Homo sapiens: one gene and its partner. Each later gene encodes a partner of the first gene's protein in a complex. Links are inferred from orthologs where the notes say so. Each region holds a gene or a part of one and is shown on either strand. Other genes may lie near its edges. The genes, in order: APBB1IP and TLN1.

What was found.
Region 2: the proteins of APBB1IP (region 1) and TLN1 are in contact, whole or in part, in a crystal structure (PDB 4W8P), measured with the Mus musculus proteins. The link is inferred for Homo sapiens from one-to-one orthologs. Residues at the interface, in NP_062329.2 of Mus musculus: Asn5, Ile8, Asp9, Met11, Phe12, Thr14, Leu15, Glu18, Met19, Leu21, Leu22, Ser25; in NP_035732.2 of Mus musculus: Leu1492, Ala1495, Thr1496, Val1498, Ala1499, Thr1502, Ser1503, Cys1506, Asn1507, Arg1510, Val1526, Ala1529, Lys1530, Ala1533, Asn1534, Thr1536, Ala1537, Val1540, Ile1543, Lys1544, Asp1547.

What each region holds. Positions count from the first base shown.
Region 1 is NC_000010.11:26,439,542-26,450,310, forward strand, and holds part of APBB1IP (amyloid beta A4 precursor protein-binding family B member 1-interacting protein), read left to right. Parts: intron 1-10,769. UniProt on the Homo sapiens protein: Appears to function in the signal transduction from Ras activation to actin cytoskeletal remodeling. Suppresses insulin-induced promoter activities through AP1 and SRE. Mediates Rap1-induced adhesion.
Region 2 is NC_000009.12:35,722,196-35,732,964, reverse strand, and holds the start of TLN1 (talin-1), read left to right. Parts: upstream 1-769; 5' UTR 770-890; intron 891-7,237; 5' UTR 7,238-7,270; coding exon 7,271-7,400; intron 7,401-7,643; coding exon 7,644-7,741; intron 7,742-8,005; coding exon 8,006-8,135; intron 8,136-8,240; coding exon 8,241-8,393; intron 8,394-8,630; coding exon 8,631-8,773; intron 8,774-8,885; coding exon 8,886-9,013; intron 9,014-10,043; coding exon 10,044-10,104; intron 10,105-10,741; coding exon 10,742-10,769. Other genes in the region: CREB3 (cyclic AMP-responsive element-binding protein 3), read right to left, coding at 64-192. UniProt on the Homo sapiens protein: High molecular weight cytoskeletal protein concentrated at regions of cell-matrix and cell-cell contacts. Involved in connections of major cytoskeletal structures to the plasma membrane.

The DNA of each region.
Region 1 (10,769 bases):
TCTCCAAGAACCTCTGCGCAGGTGTTCCACCAAAGACCTAGCCCGGTGTACCTCTTACTTTCCTGCTAAGGTATTTCTTAGTTCATACCCCTGTGGAACGTGAAATGTGTTTCCTAGACACTCAGGGCATAGCGGTTCAAAAGAACTTTTAATGTGATCCTTGACGAGACGGAGTACTAGAGGAAAGTAACAAAAGAAAAGGGCCCGTGAGTTTATTATGCCCCCAGATGTTTTTTTCTGGTGGCATAACGTGGTTTAAACAAAGGTGCCGGTACTAGCTACTATTCATTTTAAAATCTGGGTCTCCAGAGAGAAATTTCAGAAAGGAAAACTTTGTCCTTTTTCATAAACCTAGAGCAGCGATTTTCCCTCTGGCCTCACTGGAATAATGGGTGGCACATGGGCCAGGACGATGATGCTGGCTGGCGAAATTAGCAAGGATCTGCTGAGAAATACTTTATAAAGTCTTCTAGTGGTATTTCCTGTCTGCTCAACGTGTGTTGTGAAAGGTCTAAGAAATTTAACTTCATCCTTAAACTATTAATAATGTGTGTCCTTAAACTATTAATCCTTAAACTATTAATAATTACTAATATTTGGGTTTTTTCTCAGCACTTGGGAGACCTGGGTTCTGGCTCTTATATCTCCCCCATCTAGATAAGGATGATATTGATTAACTTGCATAACTTCTCCCTGGACTTCAGATAACGTCAGTAAAGTGAGATGATTGGGCTACATTATGTCTGTTCTTAAAATAGCAATTGAGGAGTTGCTATAATTCTTTGAATTGGTCCCAACTGGAATACTGGCAACATTATATCAACATTAGAATTGCTGATCACAAATTTTTTAAAAATGGAGAAAATAATCATAACCATAACAGATTACATTCTGAAATATCAATATCTTTGAGGTCTTTTGTTTCTGAGAAGTTCCTGTAAAAGCGCAGTCAATATCTGGCCTATATGTAAAAAGGCAAATTTCCATCTTATTTGAAAACTGAGATAAGAAACAGCCCAAACTTGAACAGGTCAATATTATATTTTGAAATCTTTAAATTGCTATTTCTCAAGAAATATAACTTTGTAATATGAATTACTTTATGGCATTACTTTAAATCTTAAACACAATACTAGGTTTTATAGTATTTATTACATTTTTTGTATTTTTATATCCTAAGAATGTTCACCAGTTATCCACTATTGATTTGCCTTTTTTCACTCATCAATCAAAGTTTTAAATAGTTCCATATTATTATTAGAATGAGCTACTTATAAAGTTCATTGCCATAAATGTCTGTTTGATATGTCACTTTGAATTTTCTTTAAGCCATCTTACTTCCAAAGAGCATTATTATTTTCATTTTCTTCTAATTCTCTTCAATTTTATTTTAATTATTTTTATGCCTAAAACATTTTAGTGAGTCCACAAATCTTATAATAAATTGTCTGCGTTCCATAGCCTATTGGACCACAATCTTTACAATTTTATAGGACCCCATGAGTTTATATTATGGAGACTACGGTGATCTTAGGAATGCTTGCCTCAAAACAGAACAATTTTTATTAACACAACAGGTATCTTCTCAGTATGAAAATGAATGTGTGTGTTTTATGTCACTGCTGTCATCTAAGAGGCAAGTCACTTAAAGCTTAAGCATTTATTATAAATTCATGTACATAATAAATGCCAGATTTTAAAGTGTAAGATTTCTACACTGGTTGCATGGGGATTTTAAAATACATATTACACTTTTAATTATCGTGAGAAACATGACTTTTAGAGAAAACTGCTAGATATCTGGAACAGTAATCATTAGATTTCTCTTGAAAAGAGAGAACTAGCCGCATGAAGGAATGCCATTACACCTATACCCAGTTAAAGAGACTAGATTGTACCTGCAGCTTGGAAGGGCAGACCCTGAGGACAGCTTTTGGGGGACTAGAGGATGTGACCTGCCACCACTGCATCATCATTTCCTAGCCAATTTGTGATCCCAAAATGAGGACTCCAAAGAGGCTGGCTAAATGTGCAGAATATATTAATCTCACTGAGTGGTACCATGGAAATATCACAAGCCCCTGAGATCCCGTTGGCTCCACTGGTCCCAAACCTCAGGCATGAGCAAGCAGAGAGGTGACACCACTCCAAGGCATCACACGTTCTCATTATTCCACATATTCTGGAGCTTGATTCCGTGACTCAGTTTTAAAACATTTCCTGAGCGTTGACCATGAACTTGAATAATTAAGAATCATAAGAGCTATTTTCTTTCTTCTCTGTCAACTCAGTTTTCTCTTTGATCATCACATAGTAATAGCAAATAATAATTATTATAATGTTTACTTATAAATACTACCAGGCCCTGTACTAATTTAGATGTGTCATCTTGTTAATCATCACATCAAGATGAAAGCACAGAGAGGGTAAGAAACTTACGCAGGAAGTAAGAAACAGAGCTGTTGTTTGAACTGGGCCATCTGATGGTGGCACCCATGAAAAAACCTGGGGCCTTTCCACAATGAGTTTATAGTCTAGAAGAGGAGATGTAACTAGATGTAAGAGGAGATGTAGAATTCCATGCGGAACCAGAGTTGAGTGCTGTGGGACTACATATCAGGGTCCCTGGTCTCCCCAACCAGGGTCACGGGAGAAGGTTGAATAGAAGGAAACCAAGCAAAGAACTTATCGTGTTATCATGGGAAGACAAGTTAATATAATCAACTTTGAAGTTATTATCTTTACGTGTGCCTTGAAAAAAGAATCTGCTTTGTTAGCAATCGTGTGTTTTCATTTTTGTGTTTATTTTATTCTAATCCCACATGACAGCCGGCTAGGTTGATTAAATCAACAAGCAAGCAGTGAGTTTAATATTTTTTCTAATTCTGTTGGGGATCTTTTTGATTTAGTTTCATGTTACAGACTCATCAGTGAGATGGTTGTGGGCTGGGATGGGGGATAAAAGCTAAATCACACAGCAACTGTGTTTCCCCAAACCGACTGGAGGGTTTGCATCCAGAGAGCTACATCACATCAAACTGGAGAGAAACAAAAAATGATATTAGAGCAAGTGAATCATGACTAGATTCATTTCTTCCTTCATGTTTTATTATGAAATGTTTCATATCTACAAAAGATGATGTATATATGTAAATAACAACAAATAATAATAAAGCCAACATCTGGGTACCTATCACCCAGCTTAAGAAGTAGAATATTTACCAAGACATTTCCTGGTCTCCTTCCAATAACATTTCCCCATTTCCCAGCTAGAGGTAATCATTATTCTGAATGTGCTAATTTTTAAAAAGCTTTTAGGAAGCATGTACATACATTTGTAAAGGATGGTGTCAAACTGGGGATCAAAGAACACTGGCATGGCAGACTGGAGTCAGGTTCTCCACCGACTCTGGGTGGTCACAAGCAGCTTGTGCTGTTCAGTAAAGACAGCTTACTTTAATTGAATAGCATAAAAACAACATGTATTAGAAATAGTTAATAGTAAGTACCACGGAAATTGTGCTATCTTAGACATTGATAAAGTGACCAAGAATCATCAGTAAAGAACTATGAGTTTTAAGTGGAATAAAGAATATGTGGCCGGGCGTGGTGGCTCACACTGGTAACCCCAGCACTTTGGGAGGCTGAGGCAGGAGGATCACTTGAGGTCAGGAGTTCAAGACCAGCCTGACCAACATGGTGAAACACTGTCTTTACTAAAAATACAAAAAAATTAGCCTGGCATGGTGGTGCATGCCTGTAATCCCAGCCACTCGGGAGGCTGAGGCAGGAGAATCGCTTGAACCCAGGAGGTGGAGGTTGCAGTGAGCCAAAATCATGCCATTGCACTCCAGCTTGGGCAACTCTATCTCAAAAAAAAAAGTTTCAAGAGCGAAACTCCATCTCAAAAAAAAAAAATTACTTATATGAGGAAAATAAATAAAGGAGGCAAAAGAAAAAAAGAATATGTAACTTAGGAAGTCATCTCCACTTTATTTATTTATTCATTCATTCATTCATTTTTGAGACAGGGTGCAGGCTGGAGTGCAGCAGCACAATTAAGGCTCACTGTAGCCTCAACCTCCTGGGCTCAAGCAATCCTCCTGCCTCAGCCTCTCATGTAGCTGGGATCACAGGTGTGCGTCACCATGCCCAGCTAATTAAAAAAAAAATTTTGTAGAGACAGGGTCTCATTTTGTTGCCCAGGCTGGTCTCGACCTCCTGGGCTCAAGTGATCCTTCCACCTCGGGCTCTCAAAGTCTTGGGATCACAGACATGAGCCACTGTGCCCGGCCAGATCTCCAGTTTAAATACAATTCAATCATTTTCAGTCAAAAATGTTTGCTAAGCACTATTATAGACGCAAGGAATGTCAGTGAACAAAAGAGACAAAGATCCCTGCATTTGTGGAGTTTATTCTGGTGGACAGATACAGATGCTACTCAATAAGCATAATAAATAAGTAAATAATATAGGTATTAGTAAGCGAAAAGCAAGGTGAAGTTGCAATATGCGATAAGGTGGTCAGGCTGGGCCCTTTCGTTTGCAGGAGACAATGGAGTTAACCAAGTGGCTATCTGGGGGAACAGTGTTCCAAGCACAGGGAACAGTCGAGGCTGTAGGGCAGGGGCATGTCTGTGGATTTGAGAAGCAACAAGAAGGCCCCTGTAGTTAGAGGTAAATGAGCAAGGGAGAGAGAAACAGATGTGGTTGGAGAAGTATGAGAAGGGCGAGGAGATAGCAGATCACGTGGGGTTCCAGAGGCCATTATAAAACTTTGACTTTCACACCGAGCAAAATGGAGGGGCCATTGCAGGATTCTGAGAAGGCGAATAACATGATCTGACTTAAGGCTCACTCTGACTGCTTGAGAATAAACCTGGGGGAGCAGAGGTGAAAGCAAGGAACCCATGACAAAGCGTTGGATTCTGCGTATATTTTGAAGGAGAGCCAAGATTTCCCGACAGAAGGAATGTGGGGTGTTTGAGAAAGAGGAGTCAAGGATGACTTCAAAGTCTGTGGCCTAAACAACTGGAAGGATGAAATTGTCATCAACTAAAGTCAGCAAGTTGGAAGGGAGATGATTAGAAGTTCAATTTTGGATGTAGATATGAAGTATCATTTGGGAATACTGATGTGCTTATTATATATAAGGCTAAAAGCAGGGTAACCATTTGGGAAGATACTGTTATTGCTCCTATTTTGCAAATTAGAAATGACAGGTAAGGGAGTTTAGGAAATTTGCCCAAGGCTACACAGTTTAAGAAATGGGACATAGGCTGCGTGGTGGCTCACGCCTGTAATCCCAAACACTTTGGGAGGCTGAGATGGGTGGATCATGAGGTCAAGAGATCAAGACCATCCTGGCCAACATGGTGAAACCCTGTCTCTGCTAAAAATACAAAAATTAGCTGGGCATGGTGGTGCACGCCTGTAGTCCCAGCTATTCGGGAGGCTGAGGCAGGAGAATCGCTTGAACCCAGGAGGTGGAGATTTCAGTGAGCCAAGATCATGCCACTGCACTCCAGCCTGGTGACAGAGTGAGATTCTGTCAAAAAAAAAAAAGAGGAAAAGAAAGAAAGAAAGAAAAGAAAGAAAGAAAGAAAGAAAGAAAGAAAGAAAGAAAGAAAGAAAGAAAGAAAGAAAGAAAGAAAAGGGGACATAAAACAAAGTCTTTGCAATCCTAAAACCTTTAATTAAACTTTCAAAACTTTGAGAAGGAGTTGATCCAAAATCTTTATTAGGTAGCTAAAATAAGAATATAGTTAGCTAATCAGCAATTTTCTACCTCCATAATAATCAAAACAATGGAAATTATTTTTGAGAAGTGGAAAGCAAGAAATGAATACTTAAAAGCCCCATCCATAAATTCTTTTTTTAATTGTTCTTAATAGAGATAGGGTCTTGCTGTGTTGCCCAGGCTGGTCTCAAACTCCTGGGCTCAAGTATCCTCCCGCTTCGGCCTCCTAAAGGGCTGGGCTGGGATTACAGGCATAGGCCACTATGCCTGGCCACGTAAATTCTTAACCCATGATGTAGACTTTATGCAATACAAGGCTTCCAAGACTGTGCAGTTTAAAAACAAGATTCTGCGGAAGTTAGGACAGAGACCTTTCCCACAAAGAAGTTTTTTGTGCCCGGAGGTTTCAAATGTTTAGAATTTCAAAATCCAAACCAGATTTGGAAGATAGGAATGTTTGCCCCTTACACAACTGGATTTCAAATGGATTCAAGTGTTAGAGCAGGGCTAAAAATTCTCTAGGAGCTGTTGAAGAATGCTGGACAACACTGTTAAGATATTTGGAGAGCTGAAAGTGGTTAAGAAGTAATTACTAACAGTGATCGAGATAAGTGACATTTCATTTGTCTTAGTTATTAACTGCTATCAAGCCAGGGTAATAACGAAATAGTAATATTCAGTAGAATGCTGCTAAAAGGTATTCATTACCACCTAGTAGAACTGTGTTTTCCACGGGGCAGAAGTTCAGTCTTTCAAGTGTGTTTGTAGGATTTCACCTCAGAAAGAAAAGAACAAATTAGTTATGTGGGGCAGAAGCGGGGAATCCCACAAAATCTTTTTCAGGTGATTTCACATCATATTATAGTGTATTATCACAATTAGGTTACTGATTAAGTAAATTTACCTATGGCCACTGTTTTTATAGCATTAACAAATTCATGCATCTCTGTTGATCACATAACATTCACAGGTGACAGTTAGGGCAATGAACTCATTAGGTTTTGGATACAGTATTGTTTTCCTTTTAAGATAATGGCTTCCTTCTGATTAAATTTCATAAACGGTATGGCTTAGCAAACCAAGACTATTTCTTCATGTGTTTACTCATTCTGTGGCATTATATTTCCCTTGTTGTAAGCAACACACAGAAATGAAGCTGCTTGGGCCATGAATGTCGGTAAGTGCTATGCAGTGTGGTGAAAAGATGGCCGGCCGTGAGACCACTGCAGAATGCCCAAGCTAAAATGAACAGTACTCACTGTTCCTCAAGGCTGGGTTTACAGATTGGGCTACAGTACTGAAACACACACTTCAGCTGAATCAGACTCTGCTCAATGTAATATAATTGGAACTTTTTTTCCAGTTTCACCACACGTCTATTGATGGCCAACCCCATGCCAGTGTAGGGGGCACGTGTAGCTAAAATAGGATAAGATATGGTCCCCTGCCCAGCATGGTGGGTCACACCTATAGTCCCAGCTACGTGGGAGGCTGAGATAGGAGGACTGCTTGAGGCTGCAGTGAACTATGATCACGCCACTGCACTCCAGCTTGGGTGACAGAGCAAAACCTGTAGATAGATAGATAGATAGAGAGAGAGATAGATAGAAATAGATAGATATGGTCCCTACCCTCAAGAAGCTTCCAGTCTAGTGGGAAAGACAGGCATGTAAAAAAAATACATTACAGTGCAGAATGTGCAATGTTTGATACAGAAATAATATGGTGCAGATAATGATTATAGGACAGATATTATGGGGGGATGATCAAGAGGTGCTTTGAAGGAGAAAGGTATAGAAATGCCTTTCTAGGAGGGGTGTGGTGGCTCATGCCTGTAATCCCAGCACTTTGGGAGGCTGAGGAGGGCAGATCACGAGGTCAGGAGATCGAGACCATCCTGGCTAATACAGTGAAACCCCATCTCTACTAAAAAAGTACAAAAAATTAGCCAGGCATGGTGGTGGGTGCCTGTAGTCCCAGCTACTCGGGAGGCTGAGGCAGGAGAGTGGCATGAACCCAGGAAGCGGAGTTTGCAGTGAGCCGAGATCGCGCCACTGCACTCCAGCCTGGGTGACAGAGTGAGACTCCGTCTCAAAAAAAAAAAAAAAAAAAAAAGAAATGCCTTTCTATACCTTGTGGCCAAATGGAAGAAAGATACGCCAGGCACCAGATGTGTAAAACACTTTAGCAGTGCTGAAGCATAAAATGCAGTGGGAAAGGAAATGGGGAGAATCTAATGTAACATAGAATGAGTAATATTCAGATTACATTAATGTGATGTGGTCCCTGCAACCCAACATATTTGAGTCAAATACTGAGGCGCTTGCAATAACAGAACTGTAGCACTCTGGAGCAGAGCTGTCCAGTAGAACTACAAAGCAAATTACATGTTTAACTTTAAATTTCCTTGGTGCCACATTAGAAACAGTAAAAAGAACCATGACTTTTCTTTTTTTTGAGGGAGGGCCTCACTCTGTCACCCAAGCAAGAGTGCAGTGGCATGATCACAGCCACTCCCATCCCATTTTTTTATTTTTTTGAGAAACGAGGCACTATATTGCCCTGGCTGGTCTTGAACTCTTGGGCTCAAGCAATCCTTCCACCTCGGCCTCCCAAAGTGCCGGGATTATAGGTGTAAGCCACTGTGCCCAACTGTGATGTTAATTTTAATCACTTATTTTATTAAATGATATATCCAAAAATGATAATAGCACTCTGGATCAAATGATTATTTTTGGATATTTCATTTAATAAAATAAACTATTAAAATGTGAATTGTTTGAAGTTATATTAAATTTAATGTTTGAAATTATATTTAACAGTAAAAATCAAGTGACATAAATTTTTACTAAAAATTTTAAAAATAATATATTAATTTTGATATAATTGAAATTATGTTACATTTAAGTAATAGTAAGATTATTTCATTTTTTTAATTTTTGTAGAGATGAGGGTCTCACCATGTTGCCCAGGCTGGTCTCACATTTCTGGCCTCAAGTGATCTTCCCACTTCAGCCTCCCAAAGCACTGGGATTATAGGCATCCTGCCAGTAATAGTAAAATTATTAATGAGCTATTTTATTCCATTTTTTAATACTAAGTCTTGCAAATCCAGTGTGTTTTCACACTTACTGCACATCTCATTTCAGACTAGCCACAGTTAAAGTGCTAAATGGCCTCATGTGGCTAGTGGCTGAATTGGGCAGTGCAGATTGAGATAAATTCACAAATATTGCATCCTATACTATGTGTTGACTATGCAACTGAAAGGAGGATATTAGGTGAATTCTAAAGTATTCAGAATTTTTTAGGGTAAAGGAAGTAAACAGCATTTGCAATTACTTTGGGGCCTGTCCCTACAATCTGATTTTAATTCATCTTTAAACCTACACCCAGAATGCATTATTTGCCCTCTAGTAACAAAACAACCTCAGATAGTCATTTGCTTGCTTTCCTTTTTATCCTCTTTCTCCCCCAACTCCCCACCACCTTATATATTATGGATTCTGCCTAAAAGTAAGAAGGACTGAAAAAGAACTGGAAACAAATGGCGAAGCAGGATGCCCTCAACCCACATCCGGCAAAATGTGATCTGTTGCCCTAGGCAACCATGGTGGTCAACTCTTCTGTTTTCTTTTTTTTGCTTCCACCTGCTAGTTCACAAGCATAACACTCTCATCGACAGCCACTCTCTTTGTGGCGGTTCTCAGCTCCAAAAATACGCCTGTCTTTCAGGGGAGGGCAGTAGTGCTAAGATTTGGAAAATGGGTTGGAGATGCGTAGGATATGACTCAAAAAAGACTCAAGGAGATTCCAGTGCAGTTCTTTCCTTGTTAAGAATGGTTACGGATCCCTGTTCTAGAAACTATACTTACAGATGTCCTTCCAGTGGCTTAGTCTTTTAAAAGCGTGCCTGACCTACAAAGAAAAATGGCAGTTTAACTCAGTCTCCAGGTGCATGAAGATGCAACAGACAGAAGTAACCATCCCCTTGTGGACTTGGGTGTGTGTTTATGTTTGTGTGTGTATATCTGTGTGTGTGTGAAAGAGAGAGAGAATAAATGACTGACACTTTTTTTTTCCACTGCTGGTTTTAGAGGGAAAACACAATAATAAAAATGATGATGATGATGAGGATGATAGAAATAATAGCTGATATTAAGCACTTCATATGCACCAGGCATTATAATGAGTACATTACAAGCACTAACTACCTCATCCCTATGAAGCAGGAACTGTTGTTTTGTTTTGTGTGTGTGTCTGTGTGAGCCTTTAGTTTCTTTCTAAATTCCAGTTGAATAGAAGTATTGGCATTTGTTTCAAGGGGATATCATCTTGATTGACTAAAAGTGTTCCAGGTATCAAATCATTACTGCCAATGTGATTCCATATTCTCCAATATAGTTGTCAAATTTTCTCATCAGAACCCACTCAAAGGTGCTTGAAGTCCAGGCACTGTGGTTTATGCCTGTAAACGCAACTCTTTGGGAGGCTGAGGCAGGAGGATCCCTTGATCCCATGAGTTGGAGACCAGCTTGGGCAATACAATGAGACCCTGTCTCTACAAAAAAATGAAAAAGCCAGACATGGTGGCATTCTCCTGTGGTCTCAGCTACTTGGGAGGCTGAAGCAGGAGGATTAATTGAGCCCAGGAAGTCGAGCTGCAGAGAGCCATGATCGTGCCACTATACTCCAACCTGGGTGACAGAGCAAGACCCTGTCTTAAAAAAAAAAGTGCTTGAGTATCAGCAACATCCTGTCAGAAATGGTAGTATGGAAAGTAAAATTATGGAGAATGGTTTACAGCATCTCAGAGAAGGGTATAAGAGGGCAAAGGGGGTTGTGTTAAACGCTGGGCAGTTTTGCAGTGGATCAAACACGGGCATTGGAATTGGCATTATATTTATTGGAAGGCTTATAAATACTCAGCCATTAAATGCGTCTGTACATGCAAAGCACTTAGAATAATGCCTGGCATGTAGCATGCGCTCAAAAATCAAATATCTTGTTTCAAACATTTAGAACAAAA
Region 2 (10,769 bases), on another chromosome or scaffold:
CTTATCACCATCACCTGACTTCATGGACATCCCACGCTTTCCCCAGTCAGAACCCCAACCTACCTCAGAAAGCGGCAGCGCCCAGTCCAGTGGGGCCCTCACGGCCTCATCGGGTGCCGTCCCCAAATCTCCACTTTCCTCTAGCAGGAAGGCCAGCAGGTCTTGGTCACCAGCATCCAATTCCAGCTCCATTTGGGACAACTACGGAAAGGGTGGGCCACCGGGCCCCAACGTCCGAAGCCCAGACACGAGCCCCAGGCCAGCTGTAGGCCTCGGGCACCTATCCACTGTCCCTCTACGGCCGGGATTCCCCGCCGGCGGCTTTCCATAGCCCTCTCCGGACCCGCCTCCCAGGCTCAATTCTCCTCAGCCTCCAACGCAGCGAAAGTGACGCACCCCACCCCGTGGCACTGTGGGACTTGGAGTTCCCTCCAACTGAGAAGAGGCTTGGGTGCAGCGCCACGTCCCAGGGGCTATGCAAATGTAGGGGACGGCCCTGCTGCCGCCTCGCACCCCGAGGGCGGGGGTTCCGGGGCTCCGGCTCCGCCTTCTACCCCAAGCTAGAAAAAGGAAGAGTTCTAGCCTGAAAGGGAACTCGGGCGTCGTCCTGGCGTCCTCTCCGGATTGCGCCGCACCCTCGCTTCCTGCCAGGGAGGGGCTGCCGGGCTTTGGCGGCTCCCGAGCATCGAGAACGGGGCCAGAGCAGCTTCCTGCCTGCCCCCCGCGACCATAGAGCGCGGGCCCAGGGCGCCGCCCGCGGGTGGGGGACGTTCCCAGGACGGAAGTGGCCGAGAGAGTGTCGAAGGGAGGGCGAGGCCGGAGCCCGAGGGCGACCCGAGAAGCGGCGGGGCGGCGGGCCGGCGGGCGGGGCGCAGAGCCAGGCAGCGCAGGTAGGCCAGACCGGGCCGGGCGGGGGCCTTAGGGTGGGGCCGCGGGGCCTGGCCCCGGGGCGGGCGGGCCCTGCCTCTCTTGCGTGTCCGGTTCGGGTCCTATTAGTTGGAGAGGTCAGCGTCCAGCGCATCTCGGCTTGAGCTCGGCGTGAAGTAGGCCGTCTTGGGGAAGACAGGCCTTTCCTGGGAGCAGTCCTATGTCTGGGATAGGCTTTGGGGAGCGTGAGGAGTCGGGTGGCAGCGGGGCGCAGGGCGGGGACGGGCTTTGGTGTTAGCTGATAGCGGGCATGTGGGTAGGAAAGCTTTGGGTGAGTTGGGGATTAGGTGGGGTCCGTTTAGGAATCAAGGGTCGCTATAGGAGTTAAAAGCTGGGGTTAAAACTTAAGAGTTAGTGTGAGTCAGGTCCGTTTTAGATAGGTAAGGTTTAGATTACGGTCATTATCTTGTTTGCTGGGATGGCCATCATACGTCATAATTTGAGTTCAGGGTCAGGTTAAGGGTCAACAAACAACAGGAATCAGGTTAGAGCTTGTTTGAGGGATTAAAGAATGTTGGCATGGTCGGTGTTAAGGATAAACAGTGAAAGCGTGAGTTAGGAATCAAATTATAAATGAACTTTAGGCTTAGGGGTCAACATTTAGGGTTAACATCAGGGGATTTGGTGCTAAAGGCAAAACTTAGATCAGTTTCAGGGATCAGGGATTGGATATGAGTCTGTGCTAGGAAAGGGATGAATGTCCAAGCCGGTACTGGGAATCAGGAAACAAATTAGAGGTGGGGTTAATGTTAGGAATTTGGGGCAGCTTTAGGGGTTGTGGTTTGAGGCTAGCATAGTTGACCTTGAGCAGATAAAATTTAAGAGGTTGGCAGTAGGTAAATGCCCTTCTTTTGTAGGGAAATCCTTTATTCCTATGTAGTTACAGGGGCTTCTTTTTACCCAGAGAGATAAACTAATTTCAGGCTAGCGTTCTGGCTTTAGCTAGAATTGCAGGCATCTGGGATTCCAGCTTCTTTATTCCATTCTCTAAGCCCAAGGCCCTTGCTGTGGCCACCACAGTTAGGGGACAGAGATTCTGGACTGTGTTGTTTACAGACAACATAGGTGGGAAATAGGGACCCAGGATGTACAAGGCCTAGTCACAAGTTGGGGACTGCCTAGGGAAGAAGGAGCTGATGACTATGGGGGAAGCTAACCAAGGAATCACTGTTGCCATGGGAGAAGGGAATAACTGAATCCCCTGAAAGTTTAGCCCTGCTTCTCCCACTTCACTTGTTCTCTTGGTATTAAGCCCTCCTCTCCAACTCTCATCCCTGACTCTGCATTTCACACCCATCCTGCCTATCCCCTTACAAAATACTTCCCTTGCCTTTAACTCTCCCATGCTCATCTTATCATCCGTTCCCATCCTTAGTTCTACCTCCCTCACCAACCTTTAATCCGCACATCCTACCTGAATTTACCCTCATCAAAACCTGAGCTTTCCCATCATTTTAAATTACTCTCCTACCATTTTCACCCAGTCATGTACCTACATTCCACCTGGTCATCTGCTGAATACCCTACTCCCATCCCCTGCTGTGTGTCACCCCCTGGATCTAAGCCTCTTTTAATTTCTTGGACCATTTGTAGATCCCCTTCCCCCACTCCCCAACAGAAAAGAGGAAACGAGACCCAAAGAGGAAACTGGGTCTTGCTGATCCCACGCCCAGCCAGGCCACTGACCACACCCCCACTTCACTCCCAGCCTGACCCTGCCACTGACCACAGCACTATCCTCTACTCAGCCTGACCCAGCCACTGGCTGTACCCCATCCCCCATCCCAGCTCCAGCTTTACTTAGACATTGCCAATGTCCCTTCACTTTCCCACCCCCACCCCAGTCTGATTTAGTGACTGACCACAGGCCCAGCTCTTCTCAACCTCCTATAGCCTGACCTGGCCTCTGACCTCACCCCATCATTCCCTGACTTAGCCACCATCCATGTAATCATTCCCCTTCCCCCAACCTGATGCAGTGACTGGTCATATATGTATCTTATGTATATGTATTTTTCCAAACACCATCATCACCAGCATTCTTTTTCTACACCCTGTCTTCTCATCCTTTTTCTACACCCTGTCTTCCCCATTCCCAGCCTGATGCAGTCACTAACCCAACCCCATCTGCCCCTAGTGGCTACTAATCATATACTCATACCCTTTTTCCCCACAGCCTAACCACATCCCGTAACCACAGCCTCATCCTCACATTCTCTGCCCAACCTGATCCTTTCCCCTCTTCCCAATTCGTCGCCTAAACTCAAGCTGCCCCAGCCGCTAAAGTGGCTGCTGATGATAGGAAGCTGTGGGACTCTAACCTGTCTACCTTAGTAGTTATTAGGTCCTGTCATTTCTACCTCCCCAAACTTGTTCTGAGTGACATCTTCCTCAATGCCATTCCAACTCCGGCTTCATTACCTTTAATTTGTACTAATACAGTGTCCTTCTAACTAATCTCCAAGGTAACTGCCAGAGTTATTTTTCTAAAATCCAGTTCCGGTTATGTCTCTTCTCTGCTCAAAGACTCCCTTGGCTTCCTTTTGTCCTCCAATAAGTAAAATTCCTCATACCCCTCTCCAGTCTTCCTCTGCCTTTCCATCCTAACCCTGACTTCCCCACCACTGCTCCCTTGCAGGTACCCCTGTGCTTCAACAGCCTGCCTGCTCACTTCCCTGAATGCTCCTCCACGATTTACTGCTTCTCCATCTTTGCTTATGCTATTTCTCTGCCTGGAGTGAAAACTACCCCTGACACATCTCCAGCTGGCTGGCGTAGTGGAGAAAGCTTGGGCTTTGCAGTCAGAAACCTGGGTTCGGATCCTGGCTTCACAACTTATTATTTGGAGAAGTATTTGAACAAGTATTTAACATCTTTGAGTCTGTTTTCTGATCTGTAAAAATGGAAATAATGACACCTACTGTAAGGATTAAATGAAATTATGTATACAATGCAAGTGACATAGTCAATAAATGGCAGATCACTATTGTTTTTTATTATCTCTATTTTTTAAAATTCTAGCTTCAAATGATACTTATCATGGAGACTTTTTGGTTCCCCTTCCCTGACCTAAAGGGATCTCTCTGAGCACACACCTTTTGGCTCTTACCACATCCTGCCCTCCGTTGTGATTCTGTACTTGGCTTATTCACTCATCTCGTGGACTGGGAGCCCTTTGAACTCAAAGGCTAGGTCTTACTGATCTTGGTCCCCAGCCACTGAAAGTTTGGCCCAGGGTCTTCCCCACAGCTGGCCCTCAAGGAATGCTTGCTGGGTGAATGGAGAATGTCTACATAATGGGAGGAGAGACACTGGGTGCCGGGTGTGCTTGTTATGGAGGTTATCTGTGCAAAAGCTGTGTGCATAGGATGGGCTCCCTAGGAGAAGATAATGCAGTCGTGATGGGATCTGTGTGGGGGCTGTGTGATTGAGATAATGTGTGTATAGAGAGAGTAAGGTAGCTTTGTGGGAAAGAGCTCTGCCTAGGCTGGGGTGCATCTGGGGAGAATGAGTGTGCATTTGAGTATGGAGGGGCTGTACCGGGGGAAGTTCTGTGCAGCCCTTCAGCTAGCTGCCCAGTCCAGCTCTAAATGAGTCTCCAGCAGCCTGAGGCCGGATATGTCAGTCTCACCCACAGCCCTCCCCCACTGCCAGCGGTTGCGGACTCAGAGGCCAAATTTGGTAACAGACTGAGTGTTACTCCCCCATCCCTCTTATATTCTGACTGTCTTAAGCTCTTTCCTTTTGTTCCTGTCTGTAACTCCCTATCTTTCTGCAATTCCCCTTGTGGGTATCTGCTCTGACTATATTCTCCAAGTACCCCAACTTTCTTAGCTCCAATACTCTTACATTCCATTCCTTGCTGGGATTTGACCTCCTGTCCTCCATTCCCCCCCTCCAATTGCCCAACTTCTTTGGAATGCATCGCAGGAATGTATTGAGGGAGGAGGAGTTCCCTGGGAGGGGGACACGGCAGTGGGGAGTTGCTGTTCCATCAAACACAATGGAAAAGGGAGCAAAGTTCTCAGGCCAAAGGAGGAATGAGCTAGCTTCTACTCATACTTGTAGCAGCCTTGTTCTTTGCCACCACCACCCACAATTCACTGATCAGTTCTTCGCGTCCACACACCCTCTTGTAGCTGTGTGAATATCCACTCTGGACCAGCTGGGGAGTAAGGGTAGGCATGACTCAGCTCCCTTATCGGGGTCTCACCAGAGGCTTCCGTGCTTGAGGAGGAAGGGGGTGTCTAAGTGTCCAGAGGAAATGGGGGGAGACATGCAGTTTCAGCTTAGTGTGAAGGGTCCTTTCAGTCCTGCTTCTTGGCTCCACAGACTCCTCCAGCTTCTCGGATCCACCAGCCCAGCCCTCATTCTTTCATGGTCAGCAACCCCATAGCCAGGTCTGTCCAGCTGGGACACAAGCGGATAGTAATAAGGTTGGGCAAAGTGCCCCAGGAGTGGGGAGGGGGCAGAGAGCTGGAACTGGGGAGACTGGGAGGGTCCTCTCTTATTGGGGAGTAAAGACAGAGAGCTGTGGTTCTTCTCTTTTGAGACTCTGGACTGCTTGTAAGGTCAGAAATGGTCTATCTGCCACTTGGTACCAGACCGCTGATCTAGACCATTTTCATACCTGCCTCCTGTCTCTTGTTTCTACTTAGATTTTCAATTCTCCTCATCCCATCTCTCCTAACTTCTTTACCCTCTACCCCTTCTTAACTTCCCTGGCTTTCAAATGCCTTCTGTATCCTAACACCCCCATCTCTGCTTTCCAGCCTTCCCCTCTCACCCTGCTTTTCCCCATTTGAGGCTTGTAGTTTGCCAGGAGGGGAATGGGCAGCTTGTATTTGCCCATTCTCTTAGTTAAGAGGCACCCAATCCCTGTACCAAGCAGGGGCACATCAGCAGCAGCCGGGCAGACTTGTCCTCTTGCAGCCTGTGCGCCACCTGCTGCCTCCAGTGCCTCCTCTAGCCTGCTGAGAGGGGGTGCCAGGAGGGTGGAAGAAGGTGGGGTAGGACTAGTATTCTGAGCTGCACTGAAAATACAGTCAGGGGAAGTGGGTGAGACAGAGCAGAATTCGAGACAGACTTGCTGAAGAGGAGAAAGCATGGGAGGAGTTGCAGGACTGAGTATTAACTTGATGACTTGGAACAAGCAAGGACTGAGTTACAGGGACTGGGTCCTTTCTCTGGCCTGTCTTGAAAATGTTTCCTGGCCTCCCAGAGTCTATTTCCCCTTCTCCAAAACACAAGAGTTGACCAGATAACTTCTGAGATAGATCCCTTTGAGTTAGAGAATCACATTTCTAGCTTGACTGCCTGGGAAGCCCAGTACAGGGCTAGGCTCCTTCAGAAGGCCCCCGCATCTCAGGTTAGAAAAAAGCTGGGGCAAGAGCGGACCCCTGAATGGCTTGAGCAACCAGTATTTGGTCTCCCTGCCAGGCTAGCTAGAGTTTGTTTGCAGGCTTCAAGAGCCTTAGGGAATTATAACATCTTCATTTTGCAGAGAAGGCAGCTAAAGCCATGAGAAGGAAGGTCACGTGGTGAGAAGAGAGCTCTGAAAATCCCGGACAGGGAAGAGCCAGCAGGACACAGCAGGAGACAAAGAGAGAAAAATACTGAACCAGGCAAAAATGAAAAGAAGGCAGGAGTAGGGCTGAGAAAGGTGATCAGGGACAAGGGGCAAGAGAGATACTTGGATGAAAGTAGGGAGGTACAAATTCCAGTGGTGGGGCAGGGCAGTGTCCTCAGGTAGCACTGCATTTCAGACCTGCTATTGTACCTTGCAGACCAGCTTCTCCTTTCCCTCAGATGTCTTAAATTGTTAGGACTTGGCCGGGCGTGGTGGCTCACGCCTGTAATCCCAGCACTTGGGGAGGCCAAGGTGGATCACGAGGTCAGGAGATCGAGACCATCCTGGCTAACATGGTGAAACCCCGTCTCTACTAAAAATACAAAAAATTAGCCAGGCATGGCAGCGGGCGCCTGTAGTCCCAGCTACTGGGGAGGCTGAGACAGGAGAATGGCGTGAATCCAGGAGGCGGAGCTTGCAGCGAGCTGAGATCGCACCACTGTACTCTAGCCTGGGCAACAGAACGAAACTCTGTCTCAAAAAAAAAAATTGTCAGGACTCATTCTTTTGATGTAAATAATTTTTCACTCTTTAAAATTATTAAATACAATGAAAACAACCTTATTACCATCTACTTTGGTGAGTCCCTTTCAAAAACACTCTTCCCTTGGACTCCACCATCTGGGGGGCCTCTTCTCCCACCAGAAGAGTGTATTCTAATGCCCTGATGCCATGGGTCAGGTATAGCCAGGCTGGAGAAAAGAAGCTGCCACCATGGTTGCACTTTCACTGAAGATCAGCATTGGGAATGTGGTGAAGACGATGCAGTTTGAGCCGTCTACCATGGTGTACGACGCCTGCCGCATCATTCGTGAGCGGATCCCAGAGGCCCCAGCTGGTCCTCGTGAGTCTGACTCCCCCGGTGGCTGGAGTGGGAGTCTTCAGTCCCTTCTTGTTCCCAGGCTCTCGGCCTTGAGAGTTGACCCCTTTGTCCCCTAAGACTACTCACCCCTCAGGTCTGTGTTCCATGGTTCCCTCGTTCTTTAGGCCCAAGGTCATGGGAGAAATAGTCAGGGGCAACATGGTACAAGCTGTTCAGCCACATTGGGGTCTTCATAAGCCTAAAGTGATCCATCCTCTCTTTTAGCCAGCGACTTTGGGCTCTTTCTGTCAGATGATGACCCCAAAAAGGGTATATGGCTGGAGGCTGGGAAAGCTTTGGACTACTACATGCTCCGAAATGGGGTAAGTATCCTTTCATCAAGGACCACCACATCCCCTTCCATCAGCTTCTCCCTGTTCCACCTCCTGTTTTCAGCACCCACATCTGTTGTCTCTTAGCCCTCCCCATGCTTTCTTCCTATTAACAGACAGTCATAATTCCCTGCTTTTGAACGAACCACCATAGTCTTCCTTTCAGTGCTCCACTCTCTCCCCTCGGGCTGTGTAAAGAGGAAATAATACCCCTAGCTCAGAGTAGGCCCCTGTCTCTTCTTCCTGCCCTAACAGGACACTATGGAGTACAGGAAGAAACAGAGACCCCTGAAGATCCGTATGCTGGATGGAACTGTGAAGACGATCATGGTGGATGACTCTAAGACTGTCACTGACATGCTCATGACCATCTGTGCCCGCATTGGTAAGGGGCCCTAGTACAGTTGAAAGCCTGGGCCAGAAAGCCTCAACTCTCTCAAAAGGCATGGATGCAGTACCTGGGAAGCTAACAAGCCATCTCCTTCCTCAGGCATCACCAATCATGATGAATATTCATTGGTTCGAGAGCTGATGGAAGAGAAAAAGGAGGAAATAACAGGGACCTTAAGAAAGGACAAGACATTGCTGCGAGATGAAAAGAAGATGGAGAAACTAAAGCAGAAATTGCACACAGATGATGAGTGTAAGCAGAACTAGAAAAAAGAGGGCTTTTGAAATGGGAAGGGTGGGAAGGGGCTTCAGCATCTGCTTCTGCCAGGCACTGTTTTACACCCTGGGGATACATCAGTGAGAAAACAAAGTCCTACACTCATGGGACTTACATTTAAGTGAGGGGAGGTAGGAAATGCAGAAATAAACAGAGACCAGACAGCACAGGGGCCATGGGGGTTTGGCACTGAGGGGACTGTCTGTATCCCAGTGAACTGGCTGGACCATGGTCGGACACTGAGGGAGCAGGGTGTAGAGGAGCACGAGACGCTGCTGCTGCGGAGGAAGTTCTTTTACTCAGACCAGAATGTGGATTCCCGGGACCCTGTACAGCTGAACCTCCTGTATGTGCAGGTATGCAGAGGACTTGGCTGGGGTGGGGCAGGAATAGGGAGGGCTCGGAAGCACAGTGTGCGTGTCCTTGCACCCACACACAACATTCGCCTCCTTGCCCTGTGCTCTCCAGGCACGAGATGACATCCTGAATGGCTCCCACCCTGTCTCCTTTGACAAGGCCTGTGAGTTTGCTGGCTTCCAATGCCAGATCCAGTTTGGGCCCCACAATGAGCAGAAGCACAAGGCTGGCTTCCTTGAGTGAGTGACCCACATCCTATACCCTGTCAGGGCCCAGGACTCCCTGCCATTGTGACCCCAGTGGGCCTGTCTCCATTCCAAGCCTGCCCCCCACTATTTCTTCTTCCGAGGTACCAGGGTTTGACCAACATAGCTACCCTTTTAGTTGCCATCATCCATTGTCTCTTCTCTGCCTCTGGAATATGAATGTAGTTCAGTATCTCTGCCCCTACCCCCATCTCTGAAGCAAGCATGTCACTCTTTTTTGAGATTATCTGAAGAATTTTGCTGCAGTAGCCAGAGGGAAACCGGGTAAAATTTTCCCTATAGGGAACATGGGTTAAAAGTCTCACAAGCCTCATCTGCTGGTGTTTCTTGGAATGCAGAGTTTGGCGTGGCTTTCTCAGCTTCCTAAGTGCATGTTCATCCTTCTAGAAAGCTCTTTCTCCTCTTGGTTCCCTGAAATGGTGCTCTAGACCCACTTTCCCTCAGGGACTGAGCCTCTAACTTAATTTTCCTCAGTCCCTTTCCCTACAGGGAGAGACACAGGTCACATTAAGAATTCATACTGGCCAGGCTCGGTGGCTCACACCTGTAATCCCAGCACTTTGGGAGGCCAGGGCGGGCAGATCACCTGAGGTCGGGAGTTCGAGACCAGCCTGACCAACGTGGAGAAACCATGTATCTCTACTAAAAATACAAAATTAGCCAGGCGTGGTGGCACATGCCTGTAATCCCAGCTACTCGGGAGGCTGAGGCAGGAGAATCACTTGAACCTGGGAGGTGGAGGTTTTGGTGAGCTGAGATCGTGCCATTGCACTCCAGCCTGGGCAACAAGAGTGAAACTCCATCTCAAAAAAAAAAAAGAAGAGTTTACACGAAGTCACCTCTATTTCAGAAGATAATCTAGACTCTATTCCCTCAGAGTCTTTTTTCTCCCCAAAGATAACACTGTCCTAGGTATTTCCTCATACCCCCAGGCCCACAGTTCATGGCCCACATGTCCCCTGATGCTGTCTACCACATGCTGACCCTCCCTTTTCTGGTGTAGCCTGAAGGACTTCCTGCCCAAGGAGTATGTGAAGCAGAAGGGAGAGCGTAAGATCTTCCAGGTGAATGTGGGTAGGGGAAAGTATTTGGGATGACCGCGGAGCTTTGCTGCTTAATCTTACTGACTAAATGGCCCCCTGCCTCCTCCCCGTCTCCCCTAACTTGGCTTTCACCCACCGGGCTGTTATCCCACCTCACCTCTGCCAAGAAAGCAGACAGCTTGGGCTTTTAGTCTCAGCTCCATCCCTGCTTTTGCTGTGCAATTCAGTTCAATATTCTTGTAATCTTTTATTTACCTCTGATTTGGGATAACAGTACTTGCCCCGTGTAGGACTGATAGGATCAAATGAGGTAGCATAATCTGAAATTACTGTGAAAGAGTATAGTCTTTGTCCACTATAAGGTGTTACCCCCACTCTGAATACTCAGCCCAGAAGGCCTTCTCTTTGCCCTTCTACTTCCAAACTCTCTGTTCATATCTCCAGAATGTCTGCAAGTTCCTTGACTGTATCCCTTGACTCATCGCTTCTGCATAGCCCTTATCAGCCTCCATCCCGTTACCCTCTCGTTCTCATATCTTGTACTCCTCAACCTTTCCAGTGTCCCCATAATTCTCTCTCGTTAGAGTTAGCATCCAACCTTAATTCCTTAGCTGTGATATGAAACTCTTTGCTAAATTCTTCCCCATTTTATGCACAGGCACACAAGAATTGTGGGCAGATGAGTG